7 linked regions of the Homo sapiens genome follow. The protein of the gene in region 3 interacts with the protein of the main gene of each other region in a biochemical or structural test. Each region holds a gene or a part of one and is shown on either strand. Other genes may lie near its edges. The genes, in order: SNTG1, ARHGAP21, ASNSD1, PARD3, MAGI2, HTRA1 and PALS2.

Region 1 (4,551 bases), on a different chromosome or scaffold from region 3:
CCTTCCTTCTCCTTCCTTCTTTCCTTTCTCCCCTCTGTGCACTCCCTGCCCTTCCTCCCTTTCTTTTTTCTCTTTCTTTCTTTCTTCTTTCTTTCTTTCTTTTCTTTCTTTCTCTTTTTCTTCCTTCCTTCCTTCCTTCTTTCTCTCTCTCTCTTTCTTTCTTTCTTTCTCTTTCTTTCTTTCTTCTTTCCTTCTTACTGTCTCTCTTTCTTTCTCTTTCTTTCTTCTTTCCTTCTTTCTCTCTCTCTCTCCTTCCCTCCTTCTTTCCTTCCTTCTTTCCTTTTCTTTTCTTCTTTTCTTTTCCTTCTTTTCTTTTCTTTCTTTCTTTTCTTCCCCTAATTACATGAGTAGCTTTCCTAAAAATACACAGTTCGCCCTGGCGCGGTGGCTCATGCCTGTAATCCTAACACTTTGGGAGGCGGAGGTAGGCAGATTGCCTGAGCTCAGGAGTTCAAGACCAGCTTGGGCAACATGGGGAAACCCTGTCTCTACTAAAATGCAAAAAGTTAGCTGGGCATGGTGGCATGTGCCTGTAGTCCCAGCTACTCAGGAGGCTGAGGCAGGAGAGTTGCTTGAACCTGGGAGGTGGAGGTTGCAGTGAGCCGAGATCACACCACTGCACTCCAGCCTAAGCAACAGAGCAAGACTCCATCTCCAAAAAAAAGAAAGCTATCTCATTAGCCATTTTGGCAATTATTTCAGAAAACTGGAGTCGTGTATGATCTCCTTTTCCTCAGATACTAGCCTCTGTTTAAGAAATTGTCAGACCCTTCTTTACTAACAATACACTCAAGTATTTCAGGTTGTCCTTCCACCATTACGCCTACAGAAGAACTCAAAGCATGCACAGTGATGAGCAATCAATGAACTATACTTTTGGCTGGATTTTGCACTTCAGAGAACTTCAGCTTTAATCCAAAGTTCTCTATAAGGAACAGAAACTATAAACAATTTTGAGGTAATTATAATTTTTGTCTCTCTGCCTTCAGACACTTTTGATGCATTTTATTATATTTTAAATGTTTCAGCATTTTTCTACTCTGCTAAGTCTTTAACGGGAAGAGAAATAGCTAACATAAAGCAAAGGGAAATTAGCTCCCCTTGGATACAGAAACAAGGTCAACCTTATGCAGGAATTTAATTATCAATCTGTGGTGAGTCCAAGCCTACAAACCCTAAAGTAGAAAGTGAATATATATTAGTCTTCATGTTTTATAGGTTATTCCAATTTTAATTCTTTAAAAAACGCTATAGAAACCATGTGACATTTTATAGAATTTGTGATGGCTTGATATTGTAATAATCCTGCATATGGCATGAAATTCAACTGATATATGACAATCGAATGTTCTTTTACATATGCAAAAAGATGGTCAAGCCATGAGATTAAGAACAAAACAGCAAAACTTTTCTTTGCATTTTTCCTGATATTTTCTATATTTTCTAATTCCAGGTCTCACCCAAATCTTTCTCTTTTGCATTTTATTCAGAAAAAAAGAATTAAAAAAAAAAACATGGTAACAACCAACGTTTAAATTCAGACTACTTTCAACTGAATTTTCTTCTTCCCCAGTGAACTCCTGAGGAGCTTCTCCCTGTTCCCTCACCCACGGTGGGACTGCAGAGTCTGCTTGCAAGTTATTTAAGCAGATAGCTGAGTGCCAGTGCACTTCTGTGCATTCTATATTTTCTCTTTTTTGTCCAGTTTATTTTCTTTCTCTTTCATTTGTCTTTATCGTGTCTCTTCTTTCATTCCATGAATGATTTGTTTTCATGAGCTGCTTATGAGCCCAGAGGCACTATTTGCTGAGGAAAAGCCATTCAAATACTGACTACATATTGATCATACCTTGAGGATCTTGCACATAATCTCATAAACTGAGAATGTTTTCTCTGCTCTCGTCCAGTCCCAGGTGGTCACCTTTAAAAGATAAGAAAATAATGTTTAATTTGTTTTAGAAAGTTATTTACCACTGTATTTGATTTGCATAATATAGTGAAAAATAAGAAAAAACTTTCACAGATGTATCTAGTCTCTCATCTGTGAAGCCATGCTCATAAAGGACCCTACATAATGCTTTTGTTTCCTCTTTTCCAAGCTTTGTTACCATTTGTCTTATGCTTTCAGCAAATGATTTATATTATGTGCAACAGTTCTCATTTGCCCAGTGTCCTTATATATCTTAAATAATATACGCATTCTCTACCTATAAATACTAAGTATTTACATTCCACACTCATATTTTTTTTTTAATTTACCACTAGTTAAATACAGAGAATACCAGACCTCAACACAGCTATATTTTTTAAATATACATCATTTATATTAAGAAATTCCAAGATGACTGTGACATTGCAAACATACCCAAAGCATAATGCAGTTATTTCACTTACTTAGGTTGGAAACTATATTTAACTGTCTTGTCAAATAAATTATTCAGAGTAGGAATAGAGTAAAATATATAAATATCAATTTTTCCTCTGTCTTCCTAGTGCTTTAAACTTTGTGTAGAGACAGACATTTAAAACAGCAGCAAGTTAGACCTGATGATTTCTAAATCTTATGTATTATTAGACCTGCAAGTGACTGGTCTGGCATTTGGTATTTATATTCAATAAATATTTATTAAGTGTCTTCTGAGCTGCAAGGTACATGTTTCCAAAAGCAAGACTTGAGGTGCAATAGGTATCTATACATATCTAGTACAAATCTCAATAACTAGGATATAGAATATAATAGAAGATGAAAATGTTATTGATTTTATATAGAGAGACCTGTACAACATAAATAAGCAAGTTCGACTTGTCATAAATGATAGCTTACCAGAATGTATTTGTGTTGTTTGCCAAGGATAGAATCCTCTAATTTAAATGTTGAACACCATGAGAGTTAACATCATCCTATGGGATTACCATAGGGTGAGATAGACTTAATAGTAGCTAGATAAGATGCTATCATTTTGAAATTTCCTTATTATTCTTTGCTAATAATAAATTACTAGTAATTAAAAGTGCTGAATAAATTTAAAAGAACTTTCAAAAGATCCTTGGAAAATAAGAGTTTAGTAAACATGTTCATTCATGTATAGCCCTAAAACAGTTTATTCTTTTTTATTTCACTTTTGATATATTCATTTCTTTAATTTTTATTCCATAAACAAAATACACTGACATATGCTTGAAAATGTTTCTTAAAATCTCCTTTCCCATGTCGTCATGAGATTTGTAATGGCATTATAATTTGATCCATTATTTTATAGGTTCACTATTTATAAAGAAGTAAGTTCCAGACTTTTCAAGGGTGTTAAAGCAAATGTTTAATGTCAGAATATATATTTTAGTAAGTTAAATCAGATAAACTGATTTCTACTTTTTCTCTATATTATTTTTTAAAAATATTGATGGTATACTATTTGGTGCTGTTAAGTTGGTGTCAATCTCTTGTGATAATATGGAAACGACCAATACATTTCAATAAAACACGTACTGGAGGTGCCAGAAACTTGTAGAGACATGAGCCCCTCAGGGCCAGGAAGGTCGGGGAGTACACTCTGTCCTGGAGGGGGTCTTGCTCCCGGGCTTCACACCAGCCCATGTAGACAATCTGCAAGAAAATGGAATACAATCAACTGTCAAAACTTCTTATTTTAGATATCTTATATCTAAAAATATTTAGATGCAAATATTAAAAATATTTTAGGTATTTTTCATGTAGTATTAAAAACTCACATAAAATTATCAAATTGATTGATGCAAAAAAGTACATTAAACCAGATTTGGCTTCAGTAAATGAATGTAAACCTCTCATAAGAATTTCTTATACGTTTCTACCAGCATTTATCAAGTGTTTATGCCATCCAACCTGCCATGGATTATATTTCCCACTCTATCAATTCTTACAGAAAAAAATACTTATTTATAATAGAATTCATTGATGCATCGCACTTGTTTACCAATTACTGACATTTTATTAATTGGGAATGTGCTTTAATACAGAATGTTGAAGTGAGTAAAGAAAGCAAATCAGATAGACATCTTATGGCAATACCACTAGGGCGGCACACCACTTCTCCTCTGTGCCTGATAGGGGAGAATGATAAATGCCCTCCTTTTAATCATTGATCTTAGATGAATACAATTTATGCTAGTGTATTCATATATCAAATGGCATTGAAATCAACTCTTTAGCCTCTAGTGCTTAATAAAGGCAGATCGATTTCCAAACAAAGATTTTGTGAGATGAGCCACTCCTCTTTTTATGATCTGATTTTCTTGAGAGTCAAACATATACACAAACACTTAACAAATAAGTATGACATTTCTAACAACATATTCATGTGGCATTCAATTTCTTTCTCATCACAACTCTGTGCGGGAGGATATACCTCCCACTTCATATAATTTACGTTGGCTTTATGGTTGGCAGAGTTAAGTCCTCCTCCTAGATATTTTTTTCTTTTTTTGGCTCATGAGACCTTCTATCATCAATAGGATATTAATGAATGTGTCGCAAGTAGAGTTAGCTTAGTATCTTGTGCTTTTGCCATTATC
Region 2 (4,551 bases), on a different chromosome or scaffold from region 3:
GCAACAGGGGAAAACATAGTAAGTAACCAATTCTGAATCAAAAACACACCCAATATCAAATAGAAAACTCAGCAGCTAGTCACCAGGGAAAAGTAAATAAAGTCTTTAACTTCCCTGTTTTTTTATTTTTATTTTTTACAATAATAAACAGTTTCTTCTGATCTGTCTACTTACCCCGAAACAGATGAATAGTCAGAAATATCAAATTTGGGTTCTCAATCTATTCTTTTATTCACAAATCTACATAGTGGAAATTCTTGCACATTAAATAGATAACTAGAAGAGGACTTATAAAACATTTCCATCACATCAAGTTTCTTTTTTTCTTTTTTTTTTTTTTTAAGTGATGGGGGTCTCCCTATTTGGTCCAGGCTGGTCTCAAACTCCTGGGCTCAAGCAATCCTCCCGACTCTACCTCCCAAAGTACTGGGATGACAGGCATTAGCCACCACGTCCAGCCCACATCAAGTTTCTCAAACCTATAGTACAATATATCCATTTGTCTTTTGGATTATTTGAGAAGCACAAAATGCCATCATCCAGATTAGATTGTGAAATAATTTGCACAATACCCAATTTTATAAGAACATGGCAACTTAAACCATAAAACTATTTTAGTGAAAGCAATCCAAAATTGAGTTTTTTGCATTTAGATATCTTTCTACTTCAAACCAGGGAAGATATGGAAGGCTTACAATATTTTAACACATTTAATTACTTACAGTCAATTAAAATTAGATAAAATAGTAGGACAATCTTTAAGTCCAATAACCTTTCGTTTTAGTAATCTAATCACATCAACTAGACAGAAAAACAAGTGCCTACCATATGGTCTTTCTGTAACAGAAAATAGCTGCATTGAATAACAGCATCTGTGCATCTTATCAACGCTAGCATTGCCCATACTTAAATCAGCATATTGTTAACTATAATAAGAAGACAGGACCCTTCACAAAGCAAAGAACAAAAGAAACTGAATATTACCTTTGTGCTAGATTACTTGACCTGGTAGTAACTAAAGAAATGAAGAACATCAAGGCACAATGAACTTCATAAAACGCTTAACCTGGAAGAAATGAATGGGAAGGAACACTAACAATTTACGGAGAAATTCTTTAGATCTGGGTACTCACTTTGCTGATGGCTCTTATCTAGTGATAGGCCCCACTCAATACATTAAAATCCAGGCTTCTGCCGAAATGCCACTTAATGATCCCTGCTGCTGCTACTGCCATCATTCTCAATTCTAACAGGTTTTAGCTTTAACCCTAACTTGCAGCATAAAACTTTTGGCATGGAACAGTATTCTGACACTTAAATTCAGGTGTATGAAGAAACACAAAATTAAAATTAAATAATAGAGTTATACCATACTGTAACTAGTCTAGAATGAATCCTATGCCTCCAATGAAGAAACTTGCTTTTTAAAAATTGTTTTTTGGCCGGGCACGGTGGTTCACGCCTGTAATCCTAGCACTTTGGGAGGCCACAGTAGGCAGATCACAAGGTCAGGAGATCGAGACCATCCTAACACGGTGAAACCCCGTCTCTACTAAAAATACAAAAAATTAGCCAGGCATGGTGGCGGGCGCCTGTAGTCCCAGCTACTCGGGAGGCTGAGGCAGGAGAAAGGCATGAGCCCGCGAGGCAGAGCTTTCAGTGAGCCAAGATCACGCCACTGCACTCCAGCCTGGGCGACAGAGTGAGAGTCCATCTCAAAAAAAAAAAGAAAAGAAAAGAAAAGAAAAAGAAAAAATTGTTTTTTAAGTGTTGCTTTGAGCAGTGTGTATGCTTTTTAGTATTGTTTTAAGCAGTGTAGGTTTGCCACAAACCAAATTTTCACAAGACTGAATACATATTACCTATTTTTAAAGTCTATACATAGTGTTCTTTTATTGTCATTTTGGTAATAAAAAAGAGAAAATGTAAAAATAATATAATCCTGATATTCTCATCATTCAGAATAAACAACTGTTAACATTTCATCACGGTCAATGTTTGTGATCTTTTTTTAACTGGTTATGAAATATTTATGACATGAAAAAATAAAAATACATAATAAGGAACATCCATATACTAGCCATTCGTTTTAAGAAATAAAACATCATCCATACAGATTATCTTTTTATAGCTTCTCTTATCGACCAGTCTGATTGCCCTTTCACTTGTCTGTTAATTATCATGATCTCATCTCTTAGTGGAAATTGTTTCATACATTTGTACTACACATTGTCTTGGTTACTGTTACTTGGTTACCAGCTTCCCAAAGGTAAAAAAGGTGCAAAGAAAAAAGGCACCAAAAATTTTAACAGCAGTTCTAACGGAAATGAAATAGAATTTAAGGTGGGCAGGAGGTCTAAGGAAGAACATATTTCATACTGTACATATTTTATATAAACTAAAATAAGTATTCAGCTGGGCGCAGTGGCTCACACCTGTAATTCCAGCACTTTGGGAGGATGAGGTGGGTGGATCACTTTGAGATCAGGAGTTCGAGACCAGCCTGGGCAACATGGCAAAACCCCATCTCTACTAAACATACAAAAATTAACCAGGCATGCTGGCACACGCCTGTAATCCCAGCTACTCAGGAGGCTGAGGCAGGAGAATCACTTGAGCCTGGGAGGCGGAGGTTGCTGTGAGCGCAGATTGCACCACTGCACTCAAGCCTGCGTGACAATGCAAGGCTCTGTCTCAAAAAGAAATAAAATAAATAAGAATTCACATACTACATGTCCAAATGCAAACTCAGTAACATTTTGGAGTTTTGCTAAGTCTTTATTCATTCCAAAAACATATTTATTGACAACCTATTATGTGCTAGGCACTCTTCTAGGCACAAGAAACACAATGTGAACAAAACAGACAAACTGCACTCTCAACACCTGCGTTCTAGATATATTACCTGTCTCAAATAAACAAACAAAATCAAATGCATAAGCATGCCGGGTGGAGACTAAGTGATAGGGAGATAAAGCAAGGAAGGAAGGCAGAGCATGGCACAGGGAGCAGGGGAGGGGCATTCAACAAAGGGAGTGGTTGGCAAAGCTTCACTCGGAAGGTGACCTCTAAGCAAAAGCCCGAAGGAGCCAAGGAAGCAAGCTGTGCAGAGACTGGGGGAAGTGTTCTAAGGGGAGGGTTCAGTGAGTGGGAAGGCTCTGGGGACTCCCACGTTTGTGTACATGCAGAAAAGCAAGAGACCAGAATGGCTAGCACAGAGTGAGGCGGGAAGAGGCACAGGAGGTGCGCTCAGGGAGGGGGAAGGACCAATTATACAGGGCTTTGCAGGTCACTGCAAGAACTTTGGCCTTCAATCTTCAGAGAAATGAGAAGCCATTTGAGGAATTTGAGCAAAGGAATGACACAACTTGATTTATAAATTGTCTGTCCTGATTGCTGTGTGGAGAACAGGCTTTAGGCTGGCAAGGACTGAAGTGGAGAAATCAGTCAACCAGATCCACATGTCATATATGAGAAAAAAGAGAGACATCAAAGATCACTCCAAGATGCCTGGCCTGGAAGGATGGGATTGCTATTGCTTGAGATGAGGAAGACTGGAAGGAGCATACTTGGGAAGGTGGGCCAGGGGAATGGAGGTAGAGTCAGGATTGTGGTTTTAGATATGCCTATTTACTATTCAAATGGAGATTCTAGGCAGTCAGGTCAGTTGGATATAGGAATCTGATTCTGCGAGACAGAGGAGCAGGTCAGCAATAGAGATATACACATGTACACATAAAGAAATATAAGTGAGTGTGTGTGTGTCAATTATCTGCATATACTTGATATTTAAAACCATGAAACAGTATTGGGAGAAGAAATGAGGATTAACTGAGCTTTGAGGTGTAGAAAGGTTTAGCAAATCAGGATGTCGAGGAAACCTCAAAGAGACAGAAGGAGGTGACAACGAGGAAGGAAGATAATCAAGAGAGTATAATGTCCGGGAATCTAAATGAACACTGAATAAAATGTAAAGCCTTTCCTGCATATTCATTTATTCATTCAAAAAATATCACCTGACACTTACTATGTGTCAGTCCCTGTGGAAACAAACATGGTCCCTGCTCTTATAGGGACTGCAATCCAAGGGGGATATAGATAAACTTGTAACTGGTATTCCTGAAAGTGCAGGGTGTTTTGAGAGAATACACTAGGGGCAACTGAAAGAGTCTTGCGGGTCAGGGAAGGCTTTCCTGAGGAAGCAGTATTGAAGAAAAGACCAGTATGATGAGTAAAAATCAGCCATGGAGCAGAGGGAGGAGGAACAGGGGACAGTAGAGGGAAGGGTAGAAGAAAGGACCTGACAGGAGTTCAATCTAGGAAGAACAAAAAGAAGTAACAAGTGAGACAGAAGCGCGGACCAAATTACCAAAGTCCTTTCAGACTTCACAGAGGTCTGAATTTTATTTCAAAGGAAATGGGAAGACAGAAAATTGTCTTATAGGAGGTAATGTAACGATCAGCTGGAGTACAGTGGCGCGATTTTGGCTACCTGCAACCTCTGCCTTCCGGGTTCAAGGATTCTCATACCTCAGCCTCCAAACAGTTGGG
Region 3 (4,487 bases):
TTCATCATGTTTACCAGGCTGGTCTTGAACTCCTGTCCTCAGGTGATCCACCCGCCTTGGCCTCCCAAAGTGCTAGGAAGACAGGTGTGAGCCACCATGCCTGGCCTACTTTGACAGTATTTTTCACTATAGTCTTAAAAACAATCCTGTCATTATGTTACCTTTGAAAATTACTGAAAAGACATTTCTTAGAGAATGAGTTCTAGAAAATAAATGCTCTCCTGGCTCTTCCCAGCTCTGTTTCTGACTTTGTTTATAATACAAAGCCAAGCTATTATTGCTGCTCTTATTCATGTGAACAGTCTCCAAAGAGAAAACAAACTTTAAAGTCTCCATTTACACTCTGCTGTTTTTATAAAAATACCGTAAGAACACTCAAATGATTAGAATTACCTTGCTTCTTTTCCATGATCACCAATAACTCTGTCATCACGACCAAGATTTCTAGAAGAAATTCGACCCAGTTCCATCATTATTTCCTTATTCAATCCTTCCAGCCCATGCGACTGAAAGCGGACACGATGACGAGAATAACCTGCAAGTTGCTCATCTGCACCAATTCCAGTGAGAACTACCTATGAGGTTTAAAGAAATCCGTATAAAAATGTTATCAACTACACAGTAAAGAAAATAAGATAAATGCACCTAAAATATGCTATATTCTTACAATCAAAATGCTAAAAGCTTTAAGGGTCAAAAATAGGTCTCAGGAATTCTCAGGAGAAGAAACACTGTGTCATACCTTTGCATTGCTCTGATAGGATTTCACTCCTTCCTGGGCCACTAACCAACCAATTCCTCTAGAAGCAAACCAGACTGCACAGCCAATGCTATCATCCAAAACTGTATCCAATGGCCGAATTAAGTGACATATTCGAGTTCTTCTTAATTTCTGCAGTTCTTCCATAGAAACATTAATTTCAACAAAATTCCAAATTCGGGAAGGGCTAACAGCTTGTAGTTCCTTTAGTCCCGCCCTTCCTGTGATTCGATCTGGTACACTGACATGTTTATTAGGACTGTCAGCAGCAGCAGCAGCAACATCTTTAGAGAATTCTTCTGAAGGTATTTCACATTTATTTTTCTGTTTATTCCCTTCTCTGTTAAAGGTAGTTGGCATGGTCTTTTCTTCAGCTATGAAAGCTACATTAAGAAGATCAATTGGTTCATCTAAAGGAATATGACGGTCAGCAAGGGTTGCAATAACCATGGAATCAATGCCCCCAGAAAACAGGATTGCAACATTTGCTTTCCTATCACACGTTTTCAAAACTTCATTTGCTGTCAGGTTTTCATCCCTAGGTAAACACAAGACACGTTTCTTGACTGCTACACTCAGGACATCAATGAACTGCTGAATTACTTCCTTCATGTGTACATCAGTAAGAAAGACTTGAAGTATCTCTCTTGTAGGTGGCACATTGGAAATATTACTGCAATGAGTCTCCAATGCAGCTTGTGGCAACATCATATTTAAAGGAACAACAGGTTTTTCAAGATACAGTTTGGCTTCATTTGCTACCACTGATACAAATGCTGGTAAGTCTGCTGAAATTTGACTCAGGCTATTAACATTTTCTTCAATAATATTCTCCCTAGAAATATATTTCCAAGGATACAGTTGTAAAATAATGCATCCGGAAATGACAGTAGACTTAAGATCAATTCTGAAAAGTCCAGATGCTGGAACTTCTTGCCACTGATTTGCCAATCCAGATGTTTGGGTGCCAACTGAAGAGAGGCAGAAACTCTTGCCCAAATTACTAAAATGCCAAAGCAAGCTACGGCGACCAAAAAAATCCCTACCAAACCATAAATAATGACTAGATGCTTGATAATATATAAATGACCAGGGACCTTGTACTTCTGAGAAGAGTGACAAAATCTCAGATTCATTCTTACAGGAGGAAAGATAATTAAACAAAATTTGAGTGTCATTCTCTTCAGCTTCAACCTTTATTCCACTAAAAATTTCTCCATTCCATAGAAACACATTGCCTCTTTCATCTTCCACAGGCTGGGTAGTCAAAACACCCCTCAAGTGTAGGACGTGAGCAGAAAATAAACACTGGTAGTTAACATCAGACTTTAACAATTGTTTACTACTATTGGGTCCCCGCTGTTTAAGATTATATAGTAAGTCCTCTTTTAAATCTTGACTGAAATGCTCAGCAGAAAAGTTTACAGAACAACAAATGCCACACATTGTTATGTGAAATCAGGTTGACTATTTCTTGATTTTGGTCTTGTCTAAGTTTTCTATTTCTTGGTATTCTTTTTTCAGTTCATCCAATATATCTGTTGCAGGGAAGGAGAATAAATATTAAATAACATAAAAATTCTTGGACTTTTACCTAGCAATTCAGAGGGCAACACAAGCTGTTTACCAAAATCAAACCATATAAACACACACACTGTGCCAGTACCAATGATAATTAACAACAGGCTACTAATAAAGAATGTTTATCTTTTAGAAAAATAGCTTCTGTTTTGCCGAGTGCTGATTTTGGCCCAAGCACTTGGCTAAGCACTTTTAACATAGCATCTTATTTAGATCCCACAATACCTTGGAGGCTTAAAGTATTTCACCCAAAGTCACAAAGGTAGAAAGTGGTAATGGTTTGTCATACTTAGACCTGTTTAAAATTCTAAAGCACATGTTAATAACTATTGCTTTCTAAAACATTTATAATATATATATATATATATATATATATATATATATATATATATATATATACACATATATATATAACTGTTGACTCATCTTCGGAAGCCTAATTTGAAGAAAATCAAACTGCTGCATTAATCTTTAGATATATATTTTAACACTCAGATGAGTATAATTTAGGCACCCCCCAAAAACCCCAAAAAAGAAAAAACTTACTCTTGCTCTCAGACAGCATTTCTGTTCGGTCTGCAAGAAAGAATATATTGCTGTTCTGTTGTTGCCTATATACTTTCTGGAAAACATAATTTAGGCTAATATCAAATTTTGATCTAAAAAGTAGATATTAAAATCCTTAAACCCTATTATCACTAATTCTTGAAAATCTATTCAGTACAATACTTTAGCAAATACAGACAAGCAAAAAGACAAATAAAAGTCACCCACTGCCCAACTACCAGAAATTGCTACTACTGAAATGAAACTATTTTCTCTCCATTTTAACAAAAAAGGTTCTTACTGTACCTGCAGATTTATGCTTTTATCAATGAGCAATATATTGAGAATACTTTTTCTTATCAGTAAGTGTTCTTTTACAAGAACACCAAAATGCCAAAGCAAGCTATGGTGACCAAATTATACCTACTGCTATATAGATATAATATATTACAGTTTATTTGCTCAGCTTCAAATACTAGACATTTAAGGTGTTACCATCTCTTTGCTATTGTAAATCAAGGTTGTGATGATTATCTTTGTAACTAAATCTTTGTGCACTACCATGATTCTCTCCTAAGTATCAACTACTATAAATGGAACTGCTGGGTCAAAGTGTTATAGTTTTGAATTGTTGAGACTTTTTGCCAATTTGCCCTCTAGAGAAAGTCTGTATTAATTCTGCCTCAACTTCTTTTTTTTTTTTTTGAGAAGGAGTCCTGCTCTGTAGCCTAGGCTGGAGTGCAGTGGTGTGCTCAGCTCACTGCAACCTCTGCCTCCCAGGTTCAAGCGATTCTTGTGCCTCGGCCTCCTGAGTAGCTGGGATTACAGGCACACGCCTGGCTAATTTTTGTATGTGCCTCAACTTCTAATATTCCATAAGTGACAATATCAGAAATATCTAACCAGCCAGTTATTACATAATCTTTACAAAGCTTTTAAGAGCTCAAACTCATTTCTTCCTGAATGTTAAAATGCAATTTGACACTATAACCATACACAAAGCAGTAGCTTACTTGTTTGTAACATATTAATGGAAATGGCATTAAATAACCATGTTACACATTTAGGAAAATCTATGTAAAAATTTTTTGGAGGGAGGGGAAGCAATGTATCCTTTTTTGTTCAATAATTATCCACATTCATTTAAAAGAAAAGTTTCTTCTCATCTCAATATAAAGTTCGTTTATATCAAAAGAAAACATCAAATTCAGGTATAAAACATCATTAGTGATTATAGCTCCAAGATACCAAAATACAACTAGTATCATTTGTTGCAAAGGCAATGTGAATGGCATATGATAGAAAAAAGACATCTTCAGCTATGAGATCTATCCATTTAAAAAAAGAATCTAGACACTTGCAATTTTAAAAGATGCTGAAATACTATACATTTTATTAAAGTATGATTAAATCTTATATATACTTCTTATAACTTTAATATATAGTTAACATAAATAAACCTCCCACATATTATTCAGAATTCCTATAATAACTCACCCTATTCTTCTTAAGGTTAGAAAGTTCATCCACCACAATTTTTTGTTCTTTAATCTATTGAAATAAAGAAAAACTCCTTAAGTCAGATGTTTTCAAAGTATGC
Region 4 (4,551 bases), on a different chromosome or scaffold from region 3:
AGTCTGTCTCCTGCCTTAAGTCGGCCATCCTGAATGGCCGCCCCCCGGGGGAGAATGTTTTTCACATAGATTGGAGCTGAGCCACCTATTGTTACATCTCTGGAAGTGATGCTGAATCCCAAACCTTCTGTACCTAGGTATGTGAAGGAGAAGAAAAGTAAATAAAATGAGATATCTTGAATTTTACAGGTGTATTGCACCAGTATACTCAACCTCAACTTGACATTTTGTAACTTTCACAATGGTCCACATTTCTTCTACTACTTTAAAAGTTGTAATAAATTTTTCAAAATAGACTAAATTGTGGAAGGTTTAAATGGTTTACATATCAACAGTTATTAATCTAAGAAGAAACAGCAATCTTCTCAAAGACAGATGAAAGTTAATATGTAAATATGACTGCTAAAAGTTTTTAAATCAATGTAAATCTTTGAATAGGAAATTCACTACATGAAGAAAGAAAAAAACTTCTGTTAAGACCCACAGTACCTCAAAACTCAAGTATTATTGTGCAATAATGACATCCAAATTTTAAGGGTAGGAGGTATGAGCAAGGGAAACAAAAATGTCCAGGGAGATGGAAAAGAACAGTGAAATGAGAGGTATCTCTAGATAGAGGTAATGGAACCTCCCAAAATCATAATTATTCAAAGCAGTTTACTAAGAGGATAAACCATAAACCAAATTATCTTTGCCTAGTTCACTTCTAATTCACCTAAATCTTACCATGTATATTTCCTTCACCACCCCCCACTCCCAAACAAGGCAAATTACTCAGTGAAGACTCCATCTCAGATCATGGCTACCAAATCTGGGGATCATATTATGCTTAAAGGTACTAAATTAATGATGCATTTATAAATTACTCTGATGATTCACAGAATTTAAATTCTCATTTCTTTGGCAGCTTTCTTGACAGACAGTCTTACATGCTCAATACAAAGCAGAAAAGTGTTTATATGTCACTAGAATCAAGACGCAAGAAGCCAACACGTGCCCAGGAAAAACTGGGGAGATAATGATACATTTGTAATGAATCACAACATTTTTACAATAATGATTTCTACCTAAGCTTTTTTAAAAAGTTACTTCTTAAGATATTAGTTTCCATTTCAGTTAAAATATTGTTAAGGCAAATGCTTGCTCATTATGGGAAGAATAAAGAGATCTGTAAAGGTGAAAAATCTAGAAAAGAGCACATTAATCTGATACATCACTCAGTATAAAACTGTAATGAAAAGTATAAAATATAAGTGAACAAAAAAGGGTGAATAAAAATGTAGATTAAAGAAACATTAAAGGAGAAATAAAGAAAACACTCCATAGTTATTCCTGTAGCAAAACCTACCATAGTTATTCTCAACATCAAACAAAGCATTCATTTACTTTAGTCTGAAGTCACTTTAGGGTGCTTGGACTATTAATATTTCTGATGTCTTCCATGCTGAACACCTGAATGGCATACTGTCTATATGAAATGTTTGTTATTGCTCTGGGGAGATTTTTCCATATGTCTCTGCTTTCATGAAACTCTAATGACTTGCAATAACATTTATTAAGAAAGAATTCTTAATTACTCTCCTTTTGCAATACTAACTTTTTTGAACTATGAATGCTGACTGTTGTAGGAACCTCAATACTATTAAAATATCAGCAACAACCCCTAAATCTGTAAGCTAAAAGTTCAGGCAATGACCTTTCAAGGAAAGATAAGTAGATATCAATTTTCATTTAACAAAGCCAACAAAACATTCTGCACTGACTGAAACAGATTACTGACCTTCTCCTCTGACTTTATTAAAAAGCTAATTTCTACAAAAGAGCTGGGTATTTGAGAATACCAAAATGGCAATAAATATTAAGAAATCATAATTATGGAAGCAAGTACACTGAGGCTATTCTGTTGTCATGTTATATAACATAGCTCCAAAATTAGGCCAAAGAATAATTATACTGACATCTTTTTTTGTACTAAGAGTTGATTCCAGTTTTTGAAGAACTGCTGCCACTCAAAGCACATTAGCTCACTTTGAACTGAATCTGAAGTTTAACACTGACACACCCTATGTTTTTAATGTACTTCACTAATAAATGTAATAACTTGTAAGAAAAAAATCTGCTAGCTACAAGGAAAGCCTGTTCAATTCTCCTACATTCATTATTATTAAAATATATGCATTTAGTCCTAATCAAAGATAATCAGCATTCTTCCCCACATTTATAGTAAACATAATTTTTATATAAAATATTTGTAAGTATTGGCAGCATGCACAAGCAGCATGTGCTTTTTGTCATACATTCTCACAGTTGGTAAATTAAAATCAAGATAGATCTATGGGACTCTATATCATTAAGATTACTCAAGGTCTGAAAAACACTTAAAACCATTGTTTCTCCTTTCAGTGATTAAGCATAGTCTTTCTAAATTAGCTTGTGTAAATGCAATCATATTTTTCATTAAATGCTATTAAAATAATATCTGTATTCAAAACAATGGTACCAGTTTTGTAAGTAAAATGTATCAATTTGATTTATTTATCACTTCAGACTTACTATAACATAAAAATTAGATATACTCATTATTTTCCTTTTTTTGGAGAATCTGTATTCTGTTTAATACTTTACCTTTATCTTCTCACTTCAGATTTCCTTTGTATTTCTCATTCTTTCATTAGCAAAACAATGGTACTTTTAATGGCAAATCACCTCATTTAAAAAGTTCATGTTATATCATGATTTGTCAAATATCCTAATTTTTGAAAAACCATAATTAACTAAATGAATATTGCTGTATCAGTGTAAAAAGGAAAAGATATTTATGAACCAGTATCTTTATGACAATGGTGAAGCAAAATACTGTACCTTTGTTTAGAGATATCAAGCAGAATTTTATTTTTTATACGATTCTATTTGTAGTTCTTGATATGTTTTTGGTTAAAAACAAGGGCCTGTCATTTAAGTAGAGCAAAAGGAGGAAAGAGGATGTGATATTTCTCTCATTTAGGAATTGACAGAGCTAAAGGGGTTTCTGTTGATATGACTCTGTGTTTGCAACGAGGCAAGCTGTCAACTCCTGATCATGTCAACCAAGTATTTAGAGCTTAAAAACCAGTAACCAGAAATAAGAAACTTGAGGTTCACATAAAGTTCACTGAAAGAATATGAGTTAGAAAGGAAACAGCAGTCTCAGAGTTTACAACCTTGTAAATGCTACCCCAAATGTAAAGAAGAATGGTCTGAATATCCGGATATGGAAAACATACTAGTAAGAATCTGTGGCCAACAGCCACATGACCTGAGGAAATAATGAACCTCTCTTGGAATCATTTCCATCCAACTATAAGAGTTGATGGTTGAGCCTATAAAAAAAAATATTCTTTATAATAATACCATTTTGAAAGACATGATTTAAAAATATATCAAAATGCTCAGCTAAAATGGATCAGGAACAGTAAAAGTGTATCTTGGTGCCTGGACGAAACATTGGGTGAAAATCATAAAGTCAAGTCCAATAGTTTGCACTCAACTTTGAAGGAGGCAAACTGCAAGAACATGCTCTCTATACAGAGATCCACTGTATACAGGAAGGGTACTAAAATACATAATGGATGGAAGATGTATGAAGAATCGGCAATCGACATCATGACTTCCACATCACCATAAGAAAGAGAAGCAGGCCTGGACATGGTGGCTCACTTCCATAATCCCAGCACTTTGGGAAGCCGAGGTAGAAGGACTACTTGAGGCCAGGAGTTCCAGATCAACCTGGGCAACATGGCAAGACTCCAACACAACAAAAAATTTGTAAATGAGATGGGCATGGCGGCATGTGCCTCTAGTCACAGCACTTGGAAGGCTGACATGGGGTGTTGCGGGCTACGGTGAGCTATGACTGCACCACTGCACTGTAGCCTGGGCAACAAAGAAAGGCCCTGTCTCAAAAAAAAAAAAAAAAAAAAAAAAAAAAAGAAAGAAAAAGAAAAGAGAGGAAAAGAAAAGAAAAAAAAGAAAGGGAAGTAATGCAATAATACAAGAAAACAAAAGACAAGAGTCAATGGCCTGGCTTCTCAGCAACCTACTATAAACTCCTGGCAGCCTCAAACAAATTGGTCCCTCCCCACATCAAATACTGAGATTGACGTGCACTACCTCTAAAGTCCTCCTTGAGGGCTGGACTTATACAGCAAATGGGGCAGTCAAAATGGTCAAATCCTTACTATTGTTCTGCATTTGATATTAATGTCCTGAAGCCATTTTCTTTCACAATCAAAAATTTTACTACAGTAACTGCTATCTTCTTCTCATAGACATAGTCTTATTCTCTGCACTTTTACATTTTAATTTCTACAGAGCAAAATAAACCTGAGACATATAAGAAATACAATTTGAAATATGTTAAAAGGTAAGTAACTTTAAAAAATCTATCAGTTCTTTCACAAAATAATTAGATAAGACTCAGGGTGCTTTGGGTTAGTAGGTTGACTTTTAAAATAAATTCCATTTCTACCCTTGTGTGTTGCTGCTAAGAAAAGAAATTCCACAAAACAAAAA
Region 5 (4,551 bases), on a different chromosome or scaffold from region 3:
TTCTAACAGGATTTTTTAGAAACTTGACAAGTGGCCGGGCACAGTGGCTCATGCCTGTAATCCCAGCACTTTGGAAGGCCGAGGTGGGCGGATCACGAGGTCAGGAGATTGAGACCATCCTGGCTAACACGGTGAAACCCCGTCTCTACTAAAAATACAAAAAAATTAGCCGGGCGTGGTGGCAGGTGCCTGTAGTCCCAGCTACTCAGGAGGCTGAGGCAGGAAAATGGTGTGAACCCAGGAGGCGGAGCTTGCAGTGAGCCGAGATTGTGCCACTGCACTCCAGCCCAGGCGACAGAGCAAGGCCCTGTCTCAAAACAAAAACAAAAACACTTGACAAGAAAATTCTAAAATTATATGGAAGGGCAAAAGCCCAAGAACATCCCAACACCACTGAAGAATTAAGATGTGTGTCTGGGGGAGAGAAAGTTTCCCCATACAAAACTCAACACTCATTAAAAGGTAGCTAAGTATGGCATTGATGCAGGGATAGACAAATAGACTAGTAGAACAGTATAAAGAATCCATATACAGACCACTGCATTTATAGAAATTTAATTTATTATAGAGCTGTCATTGCAGATTGGTGGGGGGTGGGACAAAGAAATACTCATTAAATAATGATGCTGTGGACCGGGCGCGGTGGCTCACGCCTGGAATCCCAGCACTTTGGGAGGCCGAGGCGGGCGGATCACGAGGTCAGGAGATCGAGACCATCCCGGCTAAAACGGTGAAACCCCGTCTCTACTAAAAATACAAAAAATTAGCCGGGCGTAGTGGCGGGCGCCTGTAGTCCCAGCTACTTGGGAGGCTGAGGCAGGAGAATGGCGTGAACCCGGGAGGCGGAGCTTGCAGTGAGCCGAGATCCCGCCACTGCACTCCAGCCTGGGCGACAGAGCGAGACTCCGTCTCAAAAAAAAAAAAAAAAAAAAATAATGATGCTGTGACATGTGGTTATCCATATGGAAAAATTGAGATTGAGGTTCTACCTTATATCATACAGAGAAATCAACTGTAGGTGATTAAATACTTAGATATAAAAAGTAAAACTATACAACTTTTAGAAGAAGATATAAGAGAAGACGTTTAAGACCATGTCTTGGAGAATGATTTCTCAAACAAGACACAGAAAGCAGAAACTATAAAAAAAAAAAAAAGGGTTAAGCCAATTACGCTAAAATTAAGACTTTCTCATTATCAAAGAGCATCATAAAGAAAGTGAAACTGCAAGCCATAAGCTGGCATAAGATATCTGTATCACATTAATTGATGAAAAAGATCACCAATAATATATAAGCATTTCTATAATCAACATGAAGAAATATTCAACAGAAAATGAGGAAAGACATGTACAGGCATTTTTTAGTTAAGAGAGAACATGAACGTCTAATAAATATAAGAAAAAATGATGAATATGAATTTGTAATCAAGAAATGCAAATCCAAATCTAAAATATATAATTTTCTACCTACCAGAATGAGAGTTTAAAAGTCTGACGTACAAATCTTGTGAGTGTGTGTAGTAAGAAAAACTTTTTTACATATGCTAATACAAGTATAACTTTGTAAAACCACCTTGGACAATACTTTTGTGTTACTTAGGTAAGTTAAATTTGTGCCCTCCAAGGCATCTAGTCTAGTCTAGAGAAAGTCTTGCATAGGTACAGCAGGAAAGATGTACAAAGATTGTATGAGTTACAACAAACTTGGAAACAACCAAAGTGTAAATTGACAGGGAAAATCTCAAATGTCCATAAAATGGAAAAATAGATAATTATTATAGGTTGTAGCATATTCACATAATGAAATAACTTATAGCAGTGAAAAATAAATGGACTATAGCTTCATGCACCAACCTTGGATGAATCTCATGAACATAACATATAGAAAGCAAACCACAGAGAAGAACATGTACAGTATGGTTCAGTTACATAAAGTTCACAAAGTGCACCAAGCTAAAGGTTATAGTTGAGAGATACACACATCTGTGGTAACAACAGAAGAAATGTCAAGTGCTTTATTTAGGAAGGTGGTTCCCTCTGAGGGCTGGAGAGTAGGAGGAGAATGAAATCATGGGAGCTTGGTAATGTTCTGTTTTTTAAGTGGGGCTATGGGTTCATGGGTCCTTGAATCATGGTTAGTATTTACACTTATTACATATGTTAGAAATATTCTTGTAAATCGTTTTATGTTTAATAAAAACAATATATAAACCAAGATGCTTTTGTATTGACTAGTTATATCTGGTCTATAGAAGGAAAGGTGACAAATTTAGAAGAAGCTAATTTCAGGGAATGTTGCTTTTCCTTTAAAAAAAAGATGGGCAAATGATATTTTTTTGTGCATTGATTGGTTGAACAAAATGTTTTAGTCATTCCAAAGCCCATTGCAGGCAGACTTTTGCATCATGTGAGTTTCAGAAAGTAGGTAAACCATCTTATAAATAAGCTTATGTGATGCTAAATAGGCATACACAAATGGTACCCAGCTGCAAGTGATGAAGTTATGAAATAATGTTCTTTTTCATCATAAAAATACATTTTATGGAAATGCGAACTATATTACACTTTTATGGAAACAGGAAAATATTTTACCATTTTAAGAGCAAACGATCTCCTTTCAGATTTCTCTTTTAACTTGACTCTCAGATTTTTATTTAAGCACTTAGAATTTCTATTCTTTCCCTCCAAATGTCTCCTGATTTCTTACATTCCCTGTTTTACTGAGCTTTGCCAATATTATTTTTTATGTTCATTATTTTTTGCCTGTGTTTTCTATTTAGTTTTGGCTTTTAATTAGGTTATATTCCTAGGAGCTTTGTATCAGAGATTTTATTCACTAGCTATGAAAATTTCATCCCTCCCAATTTTATTAGGCCATTTTACAAACGTAAGTCTTCTTTTTATAAACAGCTCCAGTAATATTTTCTAATAATTTATTATCCTTTTCCTTAAAATCTGAATGTCCATTGTGTTTCTCTTATGACACCAGCCTTCTTGACTGACTGAAGAAAAGCAAGCAGACGTGACAATGATATATCTCTTTTTATTATTCCCCTTATTTTCTGCATTCACAGATTGTGTTTTGTTTTATCTATTCAACTTTTAATACATCAGTATTAACTGATGTTGAAAAACCATCTAGTATAATAATTAAAGTCAAAACTTGCTACTCTCCACTGGTTTTTTGATAAAGTGAATATAGTAGCTCCCTCTCATACCTCTTGCATATATTCCAACATCTCCAGCGGATGCCTGAAATCACAGGCAGAACTAACCCTATATACACTGTTTTCCCTATATATATCTATGATAAAGTTTAATTTACAAATTAGACACAGCAAGGGATCAAAAACAATAAAAAAAGAACAATTATAACAAAATGCCAGCATCACTACTCTTGCACTTTGGGGCCATTACTAAGTAAAACAACGGTTACTTGAACACGGGCAGTGCGATACCATGATAGTCAATCTGATAATCGAGAGGGCTGCTGAGTAACCAGTGGGCAGGTAGCATCTACAGTGTGGATAAAGGGCTGTTTCACCTTCTGGGAAGGACAAAATTTCAGCACGATACTCACAACGCTGCACAATTTAAAATTTATAATTGTTTATTTCTGAAAAATTTTATGTAATATTTTTGGATTGCAGTTGACACAGGTATCTATAATAAAACCTCGGAAGGTAAAACCTCAGAGTTTCACCTGAAGAGCTTCCTAAAACATAGCCTGGTGACCCCACTCCTAGAGTTTCTGATTCAGCAGTTTTGGGTGGGGCTAGAGAATCTACATTTCTACCAAGTTTCCAGGTGATGCTGATGCCAGGAACCGTGCTGAGAACCATTGCTCTGGCTTAAATTCTGTAAGAAAGAGGAATCTTTTCCTGCAAGGGTATTTCTCTATTTAGGCTTCTTTGCCTTGGGAGTACTGTGTATATCCAGCAGCGAGTCATTTAGATCCCTTGTGAAAATACATGGCCACTGTTTGTAACCGACAGAGACCAGCCCTGTAGTCCACCGTGGGTCTCTATCTCTCACAGGGCTCTGGCCATTTTGCACATGGTCTTCCTACTGTGTTTCACCTGCACTGGAAAGATTAATTTTGTTTTACTTAACTGCTTGTGAGCTGGCCTTATAGCAGGTTAAGAAAGTGTCCTTCTGGCTTATAGGGAAGCTGTAGAGCCAGGAAACCATGTGGAGGCCCATCTTCAAATCAGGGCTAGACGGGGTAAGAGGAGGCTGGTGCTAGATCACGGGGAGGGCTGCCAGTCTCTGGTGTCAGCCCTGCCTGGGTTTAAATTCCAACTTGGATGCTTCCCAGCTGTCAAAGGATTGTGGTAGTGGGGAGAAACAAAGACATGATGTGCATGCCTTCTGCTTTTGGACTGTGGATAATCCTCTGACTTGGAAATGCGTATCATAGAAATGCAGACTTGGTGGTAGAAATAACAGATTCAGCCATCAGGGAAAATTGGTTGGTGAGGCTCTGCACAAGAACCTGAGGTTCCGGAACCCCAAAGCCACAGCTTTTCTTTATTAACTTAAAGAGGCAG
Region 6 (4,551 bases), on a different chromosome or scaffold from region 3:
AGCAAAACATGAGAGCTATTTTTGAGATACATTAAAGTGTCAAAGTGTCACTGAATATCTTCCTACTTAAGATAAGTGTGTCTCCCTTAGAACATTTTCCCTATTCGACTATATAAATCTACATTCTTGACCCTTCTGAATGTTTAAAGAACCTCGGGCTCTGAAGAGATTCTCTAAGAATATTTTGTAAGTGGAAGTTTTTGATGCATGCAAAAAATTGGCAGGATGTTTAGTGTTTAAATGCTAAGCCCGATATATAAAGGAGCGATGGCTAGGTGTGTGTGGCTGTTGCACAACCCATTAATCAATGCGTTGAAGCGTTCATTTTAAGGTGCTACAGGCTTAAGTGTGTACTCCTTTGGATTTTAGGCTTCCGTTTTCTAAACGAGAGGTGCCGGTGGCTAGTGGGTCTGGGTTTATTGTGTCGGAAGATGGACTGATCGTGACAAATGCCCACGTGGTGACCAACAAGCACCGGGTCAAAGTTGAGCTGAAGAACGGTGCCACTTACGAAGCCAAAATCAAGGATGTGGATGAGAAAGCAGACATCGCACTCATCAAAATTGACCACCAGGTAAGGGTGTTCTCGCCTGCAGAGGTGAGTTCTCAGATGCCCCGGAACACCCTTGGCAAAGGCACCAGAGCTCTCTGATTGCAGCTGATTCTCGGGGGGCACTGAAGCCAGTCTGAGCCAGTCACAGGAGGGCCTTGAGGAGATGCTGAGTATGGCCTGGGGGTGTGGGAGAGGAAGGGGCTCAGGAAAACTTCTGTAAGGAGCCAGATAAAAGTTTTTAAAATAATGTTTTAAATGTTTGTCAAAGAAAGCAATAGATTTGTAAAGAAATTAGTAGGTAAGTAGTGAAAATTGATTCTCCTTCCCATTCCCAATCCTGTGGCAACTCTTGTTACAGATTTTATTTATCCTCCACAGATACATCATGCGTTCACAATGAACATAGAATTTACTGGGTTTTAGACTGAGCCATCCTTAACTTGTCAACAGTTACTTTGAAAACAAACCAGCTCTCCCAAATTGGGGTTTTGCGGGGTTATGAGATGTGTTTCAAAAGAATGTTTCGTACTTTAAACATCTTGGAAAACTTGAATTAAAACAGAGCTAATGGATTTCTTCTTTCCAGACCTTCTCAGAGCTTTTAGTATGCTAGTGTGCACGTGGCTTGCCTACAAAAGGGTGTTGACTGAACTATTTGCCCAAATTATAATCATTTGAGTATACAGCTTTTTGTGGGGGCAGGCAGAACTGAGACATACCAAAATCAGTTTGGGAAATGCTGTATTTGAAAATGCTTTCTATTTAAATATTCTCTTTGCAATCATTTTTGCTCTGTTGATTTGCTTAGCAAAGTCTTCATGTCTGGGACAATATCCATTTCTTACTGACTCATCAAAAACCCCCACTCGACACGTCGATGAGAGAGGTTTTGTTTGCTGTGTGGCATGTTCAGTGAAAGCGTGGTTTCCAGTTTCTTCACATCCTTATAATTTTCTAGACTTCAGATGGAGGGAACAATCAGAGGAGGCTGGAATCCTGCCTCTGACCAAGGAAAAGACCAGAGGCTGAGCCAGGTGGGGTCTCTTGTCCAGCCCTCTGCTTGCCTCGCTTTACCTGGGTGTGGGCTGAGTAATTCCAGACAAGCGTGGAATTAATCTGGCTGTTTGTGCTGTTCAGTGGCACGCTGGTTACACCTCCTTCTGGAAACAACTCTGCGTGTGCTGTTTGGGTGGTAGGATTCCGGGTCTCCTTCTCCGTCTTTTTATAACATCAAGTTGCTGCCCAGCTCAGGCTCCTTTACGGCCAGTCTTCAGAAAACCACCAGCTAACACATTTACTACCCTCCTTCCCCGATGTTCCTGTAGCTTCTCTATGGCTGGGTGGCCAGGCATGGCCGAAGAGGCTCTGGGTAGATATAGGCTCTGTGCCCGGTGTGTGTAACTGGCCTTGAGTGAGGCTGCAGTTGTGTGTTATTTCTATTAGGTCACTGTGGAATTTCTAGCGACAACTAATCTTTCAAAGTGTGTTTATTGGTCACAGGATTATTGGGCCAGCCTCTGCCTTCATTCTTTTTCACCTAATCTGCATAATAGCTGTGTTATCCCCATTTTAGAGAAGAAGAAACAGGGGCTCAGAGAAGTCTAGTAACCTGTGTGAGGCCACACAGCAAACACCTCATGACCCTGCCCTCCTAAGGCAGCCCATGGCTACTGCTGGAGGGATAGAGGCCGGCCCCGTGGTTTGATGGGACAGCTTGACCTTAAACAGCCCATGGGAAGGCGGGTGCATCTGGTTTAGGAACAGGCTGCTAGAAAGGTATCCAGGATGTGGTAGTCTCACCGGAAGGAGCCAGTCAGAATAGCACAGCCTGTGGCCACGCGTGGGACCTGTTCAGCCTCATGGAGCTTTGGGAGGCAGCCAGCAGCAGGGCATGGGCTGTGTGCAGGCGAGGCGCTGGCCTGGACGCCGCCCCCACTGCGTAACTTCGTGTTTGGAATGCGTGGGCACATACCGTGCGGCTGCTTCTGGCCGGGGGATATTCTTTTCCAATTTTGAGCCAAGGTGGAGACTGTCTCCTCGTGCCATCCCTGGCATGTCCTGGCAAGACGTGAACGATCTCAATAGACGAGCTTTGCAGAGTGTGTCTGACCTGACTCCTGCTGTCTTGGGAGTTTAGCTCTTCAGCCAGCAGCATGCTGTTTGACATGTGTTTCAAGCCCCCCAAGAAAGGGTGCTTGAAATTTAAAATTGAACTGATGTGGCTTTTCAAAATGGAATTGGAAATGAAAGGATATTAAATTGCAGACACCCACACAAAAGACTGGTTTCCACTGACTAAACTGCTTTTTTTTGCTGATAGTAGTTGAAAGTAGGGAGAGTAACAGCATCTCTTCCAGCTTTTTCTCTTTTGTTCCCTTGTTTTGATGATGGGTTATTTCGGGGGAAGCTCTGGCTGGCCTTGCTTTGTGTCATCTTAGGGATAACAAAGAGGATGAAAGAGATCAGGAAAACCGAGAAGGCAGAACAGAACCAGCAGAAACTGTGCTTGAGGAATGAAAATCACCTACACGGCTCCTTGTCATATGAGACTGTGGCCCAGCCTCCTGCAAAGCCATTTAAGAGTAACCCAGTGAAGCTGGTGAGACTGCCTGCCGCGTCCGTGGGCCCAGTGACTAACTCGGTGGCTTATCATCTGGGCCCAGCTCCTCCCCTGGCATCCTGATTTCACTTGGAGGGGCCCCCGTTGTCCTTCATAAACATGTTTATTTCATTTTATTTTTATGTTTTGAGACAGAGTTTTACTGTTGCCCAGGCTGGAGTGCAGTGGCGCCATCTCCGCTCACTGCAACCTCCACCTCCAGGACTCAAGTGATTCTCCTGCCTCAGCCTCCTGAGTGGCTGGGACTACAGGCGTGCACCACCATGCCTGGCTACTTTTTGTATTTTTAGTAGAGACCGGGTTTTGCCATGTTGGCCAGGCTGGTCTCAAACTCCTGACCTCAGGTGATCCACCTGCCTCAGCCTCCCAAAGTGCTGGGATTACAGGTGTGAGCCATTGCGCGTGGCTGTAAACGTGATATTCTTGAGACTTTCAGTGAAATAAGAATTGCCACGGACATCTGTGGTCATTGTCCACTTGCCACTCACCTACCCCCTTTTCTGGCAGCAACAGCCGGCATTTCACATGTCCATCATCGGACAGCGTAGGTGGGACCATCAGTCATGGTGTCCTACCCTCTGTGGCCAAGGAGTGGACACAGGACCCAGTTAGGGCAAGCAGAGGCTCCCCTTGGAATCGCAAAGTGAAGCTGGATGCCACCCACAGAGACTAACATGGTGAAGCTGCTGTAGCCCCTGCTGTTGAGCCCCCAGCACTGCCTGAGTTCTTGCACTTTGTGAGTCCAGTTTAATATCTGCTTTTCCTCCCATTCTTGGAGCTCCCCTCACATCTCCAGTGGCTTGAAGTTGCCAGAGATGTTTCTGGGCTTGTGACCAAATGACTCCTTTTCTGCTTCTCACTGCTGAGCAGACACATGTGCGCTCACTTTGCCTGCTGAGTCTTGGGACCCGGAAGAGCTTTTGGGAGACAATCACGGACCAGCCCCCTCTTGCCTGCCCTGCTGTCTCCCTCCAAGCAGGAGGTGAGAAGGTGTCCACCTGCAGCCCCGGCCAGGCATCCCTTTCTGTGCTTCTGCCCAAATCTGAAATTCCCCTCTCCTTGGGACCCACGACTGGGGCCAGCCTGCCTGGGGAGGGAATCCCAGCTGCAGAAAGTCGGGACAGTGTGCGTGTAAACATGTTAATAGAAAGCAGCTTTGAGGGCAGACTAGTTCAGCTTCAGTTACAAACTCTTTCCAAATGCGTTTAACATGAGCCACTGGCTGTGCGCAGCATATGTCAAGCTTTCATCCAATGGTGGCATTTTGTCCCTGCGGGGTTTTTTTTTCCTGAGCAGTTTGGGGCAGGGGTGGGGACAGGGAGAGAGAAAAGTAAAAAGAGAGCAGTTTGGTTTCTTCAGGCTGGAGTACAAGGCAGAG
Region 7 (4,551 bases), on a different chromosome or scaffold from region 3:
TAGTTACATTTCTAGACGTTTGCTGATGACATACAGAAATGCAATTGAGTTTTGTGTCTTCATCTTATTTTCAGGTACCTTGGTAAACTCTATTATTTCTAATAAGTTGTAGTTTTGAGGGGTTTCTATGCAAAAACATGATCATATTTGTAAATAAGTTTTATTGCCTCCTTTCCAAACATTTTGCTTGTATAATTTATTTTTGTCATACTGTACTTATGGATCCTTCAAGAAAATATTAAATATAAGTGGTGCTAGTGAGCATCCTTCTCTAGTTTCTTTTTTTTTTTTTAACTAGGCAAAGGCTTTATCTTTGTTTTAAACTATTTTCTGGCTAATTAATTGCCAATAAATAACTGTATATAATCAATAATTAAAAAGCAGTGTCCAAGGGTCTTGGAATTTATAGACTTACATTTTATCATATATAAAACAAAAATTTTAAAAGCAGTTAAAATTCTTGAAATTGTATTATTTTTTAGAAGCTGAATCAATTCAGTTTGCCTCACTGTTGGAAGCTTCATCAAAATTCTGAACAAGATCACCACTTCCCCAATAGTAAGTGGTACTTTTCCATCCAGCTTCTGCCAGTTTCCTTAAGCTTGTTGACACCAAGCTGGTTTAAGACACTGGGTGGCATTTCTGTTAGCTGCTTTGTCTCAGCATGTCTGGTAATGGTCAAAGTGTTCGCTGCTAGAGATGTCTGAACACTGGGATTGTTAATGAAGATCACCATTCCTTGGTTTGCAGACATACCTCTTTAGTATCAGAGATATTGCCTATTTCTACTTTCTTTCAGGAAAACTGAAGATTTTTTTTATCATCTGTTTTAACAGATAATGTTTGCTGTATCATCTGAGGGCAGTTCCTTTTTACCAGTGCACAATTGTGCTTGAAATCTGGCAAGTTTTTCATGGTTTGTGAGGGCTTTTTCATTTTATAATGAAAACGAAAGTGGAATTTCGTGAGTGGAAATTAAACTTCGTGGGGTATTGGGGTTGGCACTAGAGGTCTCAGGCAGACCAGCTGCAAGGCCAGTTTCTGACTTTAAAGGGAAAGCTTCTAACATTAGTTAATTCAGAATAATGTTTGTTCTATTTTTTTTTTTTGTAATAAAATTAAGGCTTTTCCCTTCTGTTCCTAATTTACTAATCATTTTTTAAAAATCATTGAATTTTATCAAATTCTCCATTGAGGTTATTCTCTTTTCATCTGGTAATGTGCTTAGTTACATACATATGGATTTTCTAATATGAAACTCTCCTAGCATACCTGGGATAATAAATCTAACTTGGATATGTTGTATCATCTTTGTTATATACACAATCAAATCTGATTTGCTAATATTTTGTTGAGAATTTTTAATGTATATCCTTGAATGAAACAGTCCTGTAATATATTTTCTTATATTGTTTCTAGTTGTCCAGGTCATGTTGGTTCCAAAGAATAAGAGAGAATTCCTATCAGTTGGCCTTAATAAACAAATGGAATTACGAATAGCCCCCGGAAATCTAAGCTATAAGAAAGTTGAAGAACTTCAGAATTGGCTACTTCTAACTCACTCTGGCCCTCAAAATTTAAAACATAGATACTTATGTCCCATAGCAGATTCTGGACTTTTACCAAGCACCTGAAACGATTCTGATAAAGATCATCTACTGACTATGCTTTTGAAAAACATTACCGTGGTAGGGAAGAGTTCTTGGCTTTCATTTGCTCTTGCAGCAATCCAGAGCTGAGACTAGCTCCACAGCACTACATGGTGGAGATTTTAGTGAAAGAGTTGAAGACGCAAAATGCCCTTGCTTCCCTATAGCATCTCAGTAGGATGCCCATGGTTTGCAGATGCCCTGGTTTATGCCTATTATTCCAGCATATGAGTAATGTTCCCCTTTTCATTTAAAAAAAAAAAAGTCTCAATTTGGATGTTCTTTTGGAAGCCTTCATGTTATAGTTTCTTTACTTCTTTATGGGAGGACACGCCTCAGGCTACCTCGGACTTATAAGACTCCTCCTCTCCTACTTGAATTCATTTCCCCAGCTCTAAATGCTAAGTGAAAAGCAGAGTTTGAGAGGGTATGGAATGTGGAAAACTTATGTTTAAACAAGGCTAAATGTCCTTGCATTTCATGGTATTCAGTTAGTTCACCAGATGCAAAATCTATGTAGGAATTTGGGCCAAAGCCCTAGTTATTAATATTATAAAATTTTATTTTGCCTGTAAAAGTCTCTTATAGCCATGGTGAGCTAGAAGAATTCTGGAGTTTAGACCACAGAAGGAAAATAAGATCTTCCTACTACAACTAACACATAATAATAAATAAAATACGTAAATCCTAGATTTTACTCTTCCAGCGTACGCAGGTCCAAGATAAGGCCTCAGGCTGTCACAAATTGAAAGTTGCCAACTGAGGAATAAAGGTAGCCTGAGAGGTACTAGTGATATGAAATGTCTAAGTACTAATATCATTTATTTTTCACAATTCTTTTCCTTGAGGACCACAAAACTACCTTCATTTCAACCAAAGTTAATTACAAGCCTATCTATTTTCATAAGTTCAATTTACATGCTAATATTAATGACTAAATAATCTATCCTTACCTTTGAAAGAACAGTTTAAAATAGACATTCAATGAAATGTTATTTCAAATAACTGTATGGAAATGTAAGAACTAGACTTTTAAACTCTCATTTTAACAATATGAAATAAGATACACTGGCAGTATCTTATGTAAGAAAACTTATAATTTCATTCATACATCAAACAATAAATTTCTGGAATAAACCTAAGCATTAGAGGCATCTACTTCTACATTACTTAGGCTTGAAAACCCTCTCTTTGGTTCCAACACTCCTATCATAATTTTCAATTCTTCCTCCGCAATTTCTTTTTCTTTCTTTACGGTTCCATTTCACCACTACTGCGTCATCACCACAGCAAGTGCAGCCACTTCTTGAGCACTCATTATGTGCCAGGTGTTGCTGTGAGAGCATTACATGAATTAACTCGTTTAATCCTCATAACAATCTTTTGAGAAAACAAATTTTATCCCTAACTATATAGATGAGAAAAATGAAGCACAGAGAAGGTAAGCTGATAACTGGCAGCACTGGTATTTGAACCTAAGTGGTCATCTTAACCATTCATTAGAGCTGTTGTTCACAAATCACCTCACACCTTCAAAAATCTGCCACCTGGTTACATAATCTCATCTCTCTTCTTTTTGAATTCACTTAACATACCGAGTCTAGACAATCTCTATAACTAAAACATTTTCCCGTTCAATTACCTAGTTTACCTAAAATTAGTTTTAAAATACAGATCAAATGTGTGCAAACCAGGGGTCCAAGATTTTCTTTATACCCATCCTCTTTTCTGGCCTCATCAGTCATTTCACCCATGACACAAACACTAAGCTGGAGGTGATCTGGACTGCATTTTTATCCTCTCCCAGGGCCTAATACAATGCCTGAACATAACAGCTGTCAGAAATGTTTACTAGATTAGTAATTCAAAGACTTTATGGTTCTTCTGATACCTAGCTGTAGGTTACTATTATGCCAGGGTTCCTGGTGTTAATGAAGAAATCTACTATTTCCTTTACAATAGTAAAATAGCATTGTTTAAAAATTCAAAAATTCACCCATGACAAAATAAGCCATTTCAGAACACTCAAATCAATTTTTTCTCTTTTCTTTAGCAAAATAGTAGCAACTGATAGTTATTTCCAACACTGTGATTAAAAACATGAAAGTATTTTTAATACTACCAAAAATTTTATTACTAACCTGTTGAGGAGTAATGGTATCTCTATAACTTGGTAAGATTTTTAGGGTGACACTTCCACTAATATTTTTCAGTAATTCTTGTAATTCCTTTGGATTATTTCCAACCTCATGGCCATTGACTTCTTTAATTATATCTCCCACATGAAGTAGACCTTGTCGATCTATCATTCCCCCATGGAGGATTCGGGCAATTACCAGATCATTATTTTCAACCCTAAATGTCACACCCTATGAAAAATAAGAAACAGATTTCTCATTAATTATTAGGGAGAAATGCTTAAATATTCATGAGCATATGTAAGAAAATAATTCTAAAACTAGGTAAAATGAATCATTCTTACTTTTCCCATGTTCTCTCCTGTCTCAATATTTCACTCCCATTAAACTGTGTACTAGTATAGTTTATTACACTAGTGGATAGGATGTATCTTACAGGCTAAATGGAAACTCGAGAGAGCAGGAAAAGGTATTTGTGCATTCTGATGGACTTATTCCTGGCTTTTCCTTTTTTGCACTCACTGTTCTTATAGTCAGGATCCAGAAGTAATAATTTTACCAAGGAATAGTAAACTTCACTACTTAGAGAGTCCTAGTATGGCTTCAATTTTTAATAACAACTTCTTTTTATATTTTGATACTGTCAGTATTTCTTCAAAGGGTAGTTCATGTCTTCAAAGGGTAGGAAGAAACATAATAGTCATCTTCTGAAATTTTTTGCTACCCCTTGCCATATTTCTACTTCTAGCTCAGTTTAACTTTTC

The links.
Region 1: the proteins of ASNSD1 (region 3) and SNTG1 interact in a test that uses a peptide from one of them, tested with the Homo sapiens proteins (one large-scale study listed by IntAct).
Region 2: the proteins of ASNSD1 (region 3) and ARHGAP21 interact in a test that uses a peptide from one of them, tested with the Homo sapiens proteins (one large-scale study listed by IntAct).
Region 4: the proteins of ASNSD1 (region 3) and PARD3 interact in a test that uses a peptide from one of them, tested with the Homo sapiens proteins (one large-scale study listed by IntAct).
Region 5: the proteins of ASNSD1 (region 3) and MAGI2 interact in a test that uses a peptide from one of them, tested with the Homo sapiens proteins (one large-scale study listed by IntAct).
Region 6: the proteins of ASNSD1 (region 3) and HTRA1 interact in a test that uses a peptide from one of them, tested with the Homo sapiens proteins (one large-scale study listed by IntAct).
Region 7: the proteins of ASNSD1 (region 3) and PALS2 interact in a test that uses a peptide from one of them, tested with the Homo sapiens proteins (one large-scale study listed by IntAct).

What each region holds. Positions count from the first base shown.
Region 1 is NC_000008.11:50,655,962-50,660,512, reverse strand, and holds part of SNTG1 (gamma-1-syntrophin), read right to left. Parts: intron 3,605-4,551; coding exon 3,488-3,604; intron 1,922-3,487; coding exon 1,850-1,921; intron 1-1,849. UniProt on the Homo sapiens protein: Adapter protein that binds to and probably organizes the subcellular localization of a variety of proteins. May link various receptors to the actin cytoskeleton and the dystrophin glycoprotein complex.
Region 2 is NC_000010.11:24,713,313-24,717,863, forward strand, and holds part of ARHGAP21 (rho GTPase-activating protein 21), read right to left. Parts: intron 1-4,551. UniProt on the Homo sapiens protein: Functions as a GTPase-activating protein (GAP) for RHOA and CDC42. Downstream partner of ARF1 which may control Golgi apparatus structure and function. Also required for CTNNA1 recruitment to adherens junctions.
Region 3 is NC_000002.12:189,663,852-189,668,338, reverse strand, and holds part of ASNSD1 (asparagine synthetase domain-containing protein 1), read right to left. Parts: intron 4,439-4,487; coding exon of another isoform or gene 4,385-4,438; intron 2,964-4,384; coding exon of another isoform or gene 2,888-2,963; intron 2,299-2,887; coding exon of another isoform or gene 2,228-2,298; 5' UTR 2,207-2,227; coding exon 743-2,206; intron 576-742; coding exon 394-575; intron 1-393. Other genes in the region: ASDURF protein, read right to left, coding at 2,228-2,298, 2,888-2,963, 4,385-4,438.
Region 4 is NC_000010.11:34,377,974-34,382,524, forward strand, and holds part of PARD3 (partitioning defective 3 homolog), read right to left. Parts: intron 134-4,551; coding exon 1-133. UniProt on the Homo sapiens protein: Adapter protein involved in asymmetrical cell division and cell polarization processes. Seems to play a central role in the formation of epithelial tight junctions. Targets the phosphatase PTEN to cell junctions.
Region 5 is NC_000007.14:78,120,089-78,124,639, forward strand, and holds part of MAGI2 (membrane-associated guanylate kinase, WW and PDZ domain-containing protein 2), read right to left. Parts: intron 1-4,551. UniProt on the Homo sapiens protein: Seems to act as a scaffold molecule at synaptic junctions by assembling neurotransmitter receptors and cell adhesion proteins. Plays a role in nerve growth factor (NGF)-induced recruitment of RAPGEF2 to late endosomes and neurite outgrowth.
Region 6 is NC_000010.11:122,489,053-122,493,603, forward strand, and holds part of HTRA1 (serine protease HTRA1 precursor), read left to right. Parts: intron 1-369; coding exon 370-574; intron 575-4,551. UniProt on the Homo sapiens protein: Serine protease with a variety of targets, including extracellular matrix proteins such as fibronectin. HTRA1-generated fibronectin fragments further induce synovial cells to up-regulate MMP1 and MMP3 production.
Region 7 is NC_000007.14:24,649,952-24,654,502, reverse strand, and holds part of PALS2 (protein PALS2), read right to left. Parts: intron 4,019-4,551; coding exon 3,791-4,018; intron 1-3,790.